Linked DNA regions of Homo sapiens: region 1 is linked to region 2. Evidence: fine-mapped expression QTL. A gene starts in region 2. The other region holds a variant in brackets. All regions are shown on one strand. Distances are between the middles of the regions. Region 1 overlaps ATP1A2 (ATPase Na+/K+ transporting subunit alpha 2). Region 2 holds the start of CASQ1 (calsequestrin 1).

Evidence for each region.
Region 1: its variant is fine-mapped to the expression of CASQ1 in tibial nerve (GTEx, PIP above 0.99).

The regions. Positions count from the first base shown.
Region 1 is chr1:160,143,447-160,146,360 of GRCh38, forward strand. It overlaps ATP1A2 (ATPase Na+/K+ transporting subunit alpha 2), which reads left to right. Exons shown (of 23, transcript NM_000702.4): 23 at 1-145. Among named protein-coding and RNA genes, the nearest start is that of ATP1A4, 6.7 kb to the right of the region's middle. The variant A/G (reference allele first, on the strand shown) is at 1,107.
Region 2 is chr1:160,189,015-160,191,928 of GRCh38, forward strand. CASQ1 (calsequestrin 1) reads left to right here and starts at 1,561. Exons shown (of 11, transcript NM_001231.5): 1 at 1,561-2,016. The coding sequence starts at 1,738.

The DNA of each region.
Region 1 (2,914 bases), 46 kb before region 2:
CATGGGCTAATTATCATCAATCTTTATGTATTTGTTAAAGAAACATCTACAGGATCTTTATTGGTGACCTTTTGTAAGACATTAGTTTGAGGTACTACCTATGTACTTGAAAATAATAAAGTGGCATTTCTTTATGAAAAAAAAAGAAATCTCTTCCATAATTCAGATTTCTACACTTTATACTTGCCTCCCTCCTAAATCGTGATATTGAAATATGTGCTGTGGCAGAACTCGGCTTGTAGGGAAAGCAACAAAGAGATAGCAAGTGTCAGGGATGGGAGGGAAATGGTCTGGGAGCAGATGATGTCCGTGGAGAAAGCAAGAGGGGAAGAAGTTAGGTTGCAAAATAACCTACAAGAAACTATAGCAGGAGCCTCCTTCCTCATGCTGATCCCACCCTAAGAGCCACAAGAGTTTGTCCAGGACAGGGAGGGGCCTGTGAGTCTATTAAGAACAAGATCCTCAGGGGCACTTCTGCTTTTTCTGTTCCAGACCAAAATCAGGCCATTCTCTATCTGATGGGATGGGGGAAGGAGATAGTGGGTTGAGGAGCCCAAGAGTCAACACCAATTCACAATCTGTACTTCATGCAGAGCTTTGTCCTGGGTGCTCTCTTTAAGGGGTGGGGGTAAAGTGGATGCAATCCTTGAAATTCACCTGAGTAGTAGACATCAGAAACCATCATGGACAGAATGTAATGAGCAGTAGGGGGGACGCTTGTGTGCTGGAGATGGAGGGGTGGGTGGGTGGGTGTGCATTGCTCCAGGGGGGCCCTGGGAATGGGAGAGAGAAAGACACCAACTCTTACAACCTATGCCAGGATTTCAGAATAACGGTCAGAAGTCAATTCTTGCCCAAGCCATATTGCAGCCCCTTTATTATGACTCTTAACAGTGTCATTAATGACAGTTATAGTTAGTAGTGATTATAAGAGCCTTAATCACAGCTCATTTTGTGCCATAACTATGCCAAAATTTTATTTGTATAGTCTCCGTTCATCCCACCACAGGGCCTTTATTCTTGATGGTCCCTCTGCCAGGAACACTTTTCCCTAGTTATTCACATGCCTGGCTTTGTCACTTCATTCAGATCACTCCTTAAACATC[A/G]GTAAGATCCTCACAGAGGACCTCAAATAAAATGACTTCCTGGAACCTCTTTCTCTGTTCTCTTCGTTTTTGTTCATAAATACTTATTACCTTAAATTTAGATAGAAAGACAGCTAGATGTAATATTTAGAAAGATATACATGTATTTTGTTGCTGTTTATGCTTTTGTTTGTCTGACTCCTCCAGTATAAGTTCCATGAAGACAGAGACTCTATTTCTTTTGTTCAACACCTTTATCCTTAGCACCTAAAACATCTGACACACGTTAGACAATTAATAAATATGTGTTGGATGACTGAAAGGATCCTCACAGTAATTCAGTAAGATGGAGACTATTATTATCTCCAATTTACAGATGAGAAAACTGGTGCTCAGAAAGTTAAATTATTATTCAAAGTTTCAAAGGTAGTAAGCATCTGAAGCAGGATTCAAACCTAGGCCAGTCTGACTCCAGGGCCTGCCCTCTTAACCATGCCATGCTCTGCAACTGCAAGAACAGAAAGCCTATGTGCATGGACAGAGCCTGACTAGCCCAATGGCTCAGTGAACTGGGGAGGCTGCCAAGGGAGCCAGGAATTTGTGGACAATTAACATTTGAGCAGCAGGGGCAAGGCAGATCCGTGAGAAAGGGAGAAGATATGATCTCAAAGATGCGGTAGGGGGTTAAGAAAAAGATCCAGGCCAGGCACAGTGGCTAACGCCTGTAATCCCAGCACTTTGAGAAGCCAAGGTGGGCAGATCACTTGAGGTCAGGAGTTCGAGACCATCCTGGCCAACATGGTGAAACCCTGTCTTCCACTAAAAATACAAAAATTAGCCGGGTATACACCTGTAATCCCAGCTACTCAGGAGGCTGAAGTAGAAGAATGGCTTGAACCCAGGAGGCAGAGGCTGCAGTGAGCCGAGATTGTGCCACTATACTCCAGCCTGGGTGACAGAGCAAGACTTCATCTCAGAAAAAAAAAAAAAAAAGAAAGAAAGAAAAGAAAAGAAAGAAAGAAAAAGATCCAAAGAGATTTGATGGTCTGCTAGAGGATTTTAGCAAAAAGAAGAATCTTACTATTGAATGTAATCTGAGAAGCTAAGGCCAACTTTTGACCCAGGCAGAAAGTCTTTCCATGGCATTTTCTTTTTATCTACAGAATAGGAAATGTGATCATGCATCAGAGATAATCAGAGATAGTCACTAAATATTCATAATGCTAAGAACGCAGCAAAAAATAGGAAGAAAGTGGTTAGATCAATATCAAAGGAAGACATTTAATACAAAGTGAGTCTTTCAAAAATATCCTTGGCTCCAGTGAATTCAATGAAGGATTTTTTGCAAATTCCTCAAAGAATTTCCTTATATTATTTAAAATGTGCTGGAATATAAAAAATTATTTTGTGTTTTGTGTTGCCCAGCCTATTTTATGAGATAAGTACTATTTTGTTAAAATTTTATATTTAATATAGATAATAAATTGACTACCCCAAATGGTGGAATGCAAGGATAGCATATTACAAGGAAAATGTTACAAACAACTAACATTAACTAGACAAAGGATGAAATAATCATTTCAAAAAAGGTTGAGGAGGCTATCAGTAAAATTCAGTATCTATTACTGATAAAAATGTTGGAGGAAAAAGTGTATCAGAAAATATAATCATGGGCCAGTCGCGGTGGCTCACGCCTGTAATCCTAGCACTTTGGGAGGCCGAGGTAGGTGGGTCACCTGAGGTCAGGAGTTTGAGACCAGCCTGGCCAACGTAGTGAAACCTTGTCTCTACTAAAAATGCAAAAATTTGCGCGTGGTGGCACGCGCGCC
Region 2 (2,914 bases):
AACGTGCTGTGCTTAGGCTAGCTCCAACCTCTCCTGCTACAGTGACAGCTGTCCCTCTTGGCCTCACTCCTGCCATGCTTTTGAGATTTTCTGTGGCCTTCCGTGTTCAGCTGTGTAAGGTCCACCACACAGACATGTGGAAAAGTTATTCTGCTAACATAATTACATGACCCTCCCTGGATGCAAAACAAAACAAAAAAAACACCACTGTCCCTCTAGAATCAGAGATACCTCAGGGTGCAGTGGCAGCATGTGACTTTGATCTGACCCTCTATGGTCTCCCTCATGCCTCAGTTTACCTGTGCATAGTAAGAACCCTGGAGGGCCATGAAGAGGATCCTTCCTTCCTACGTATCCAGAGTTAAACTCACTACTCTGTCCTCACCCCCCAAGCTGGATCCAGAAGTTTAAGCCCCTACCCGCCCATCTCTGCTTTGGATCTCGGGTGCACAGAATTAATCATCAGTCTTGGTTCAGGGCACAGGGTTCACCTCTTCATGCTTGCCTAATGTTAATTTTTTTTTGCCCTGGTGTCAATACCTGATCCTCTTTGTCTTGTCAAAGACATGGGAATAAATAGTAGCTATTCACTCTCCTTGGAAGCATGCAGCCTGGGAAAACCTCCCTTCCCACTGTGCCCCAGAAAACCGAGTCCCATAGGATCAGGGTAGGGAGTGCACACACAGGTGGCAACCAAAGGACAGACCCCTTCTCATTGTGGGCTTTATAGGCAGAGAAACCCCAAACCCACATCTCTACAGGACAGGATCTGGGCCAGCCCTGTCCTTCCCTGCATTCCCAAGTTAGGAGTGCTGAGTGAAGCAAAGGAAACTGGCTGGAGCTGAGCCAGGTTGCCAGTCTTGGACGCGGCTCCATCTTTTATTCAGAGAATGACCTCATCCTTGGTCCTGGTTCTTTAAAAGAAAGTGGAGGGGGTCTCTTTCCTGCAGCCTGGCTTGCACTTTTATCGCCCCACTCTCCTACATAGTATCAAAGAATCAGAATCAGACTTCACCTACAGAAGATTCCCAGGCTTTAGGACATAGAGCCAATACCACATTTGTCCCCCTTTTGTCCTATATTATCAATTTAGCCTCTGACCCAGTTAGCTCCTCCTCTCCACTGCATTTAACTTCTAATTACCCTTGCCCCACCCTCGGCCCACCCTAATTACCCTTATACCTCCCCTCCCCCAGCCCCAGCTTCATTTACCTCCGACTCATCTGGTCTTATTTTTAGCTCCGGCATCTCTCCTTTTCCTTTCTTAATATGGCGATGAGCTCTTAGGCCAGTGTGGGGACCGGGGCTGAGGTGCCCTGGACACTGGAGGAGGGGGAGGGAAGGAGCCCCTGGGAGCCTGGGGTAGAAGTGTAGGAGGTGGGAGGATTCCGGCCCGCATGGAGCTGTCCTGGCCTCAGAAGGTTATCCGTCTCTCCTGCCAACCATGGAGACATATTTAGACAGGACCAGGTGGGGACTGAGGGGTGCCAATTTCAGGGGGCAGCTCCGGTTCCCTCCCCGCCCCCTGCTCCTATTCCTCCACCTGACCCTTTTTCCCTTGGCTCTGTCGGCAGTTTCTCCAGGACCCAGCAGTGCCCTCTGTCCACTGCTCTGGGCCATTCCCCAATCCCCCCTCCCACTTGAGCCCCTAACTCAGAATCTGGGACCCAGGGGCCCCTCCCTACCCCAGCTAACCTCTTCTGGACCAGGAGAGCCAACCCAGATCCCACTACCTCCATGAGTGCTACAGACAGGATGGGGCCCAGAGCTGTGCCGGGTCTGCGGCTGGCACTGCTGTTGCTGCTGGTGCTAGGGACACCCAAGTCAGGGGTACAGGGGCAGGAAGGGCTGGACTTCCCTGAGTACGATGGTGTGGACCGTGTGATCAATGTCAATGCAAAGAACTACAAGAATGTGTTCAAGAAGTATGAGGTGCTGGCACTCCTCTACCATGAACCCCCCGAGGATGACAAGGCCTCACAAAGACAATTTGAGATGGAGGAGCTGATCCTGGAGGTGAGTTGGGGGCACTGCAGGCCTGCAGAGCATGTCTAGCCCCTCTCCGGAATCCCCTATCCTACACCCATGTAGCTCTTTGAGGATGGGATCTGGGGGTGAGGGGCAGTGTGGTAGGAACCCTGTCCTGACCAACAGGATGCAAGTGGCATGTGGCTTTAGTCAAATGAGAAACAGAGTCTCAGGAACCCAAAAGTACTATCAGCGTCAGGAAACCTTTAGCAGGGGTGCTGCAGGAAGAGCTCCCCTCCCTGCTATAGGAGGCTGGTAGTATTTGACTTAGGTTTGGCTAGGACACTGAGGGTGAAAAAGGGAGGTACTTGGAGGGCCAGGGGAGAACAGCAGTGTATATTGCACTCCCCTACCCCACCCATCTGCTTAGCCAGAACACGTCCTCTCCACATACTTCAGGGGCTGCACCCCAAAGAGATCCAAACTGAGTGTAAATGTAAATGTTATGATACTTGCATGCCATGTTTAAATATCTCCTAGAGATCATGCCTCCCATTGGACTCCCAGTCCCCTCTCTCTTCCTTCCCCCTCCCTAATTCCCCATTTGTCTCCATTGGATAAGCTGGATGCCCTCACTGGAAAATTCTTATGGTTGCAGGAGGTGTCAGAATGTCTTCCCCAATCTTCTTTTTGTGGGAAAAGTCTCCTCACCTCCAAAATGACTTCAGGCCCAAAGGAGAAAGAAGTTATCATAAGAAAAGAAAAAAAACCTATGTTTGGGAATGTGTTCATACACACACACCTTTAGGAAATGGGATGTGAGTTTTCTTGTCCAAGCTCCTGTGGCCCCTTCTCTGGCCTCAGCTTGTCCAGAGCTTGGAGCATTTCAGGGTGAGACACCAGAACCACAGGCTCTCATTTTGTGCACCCCTGCTGGGTGCTAGAA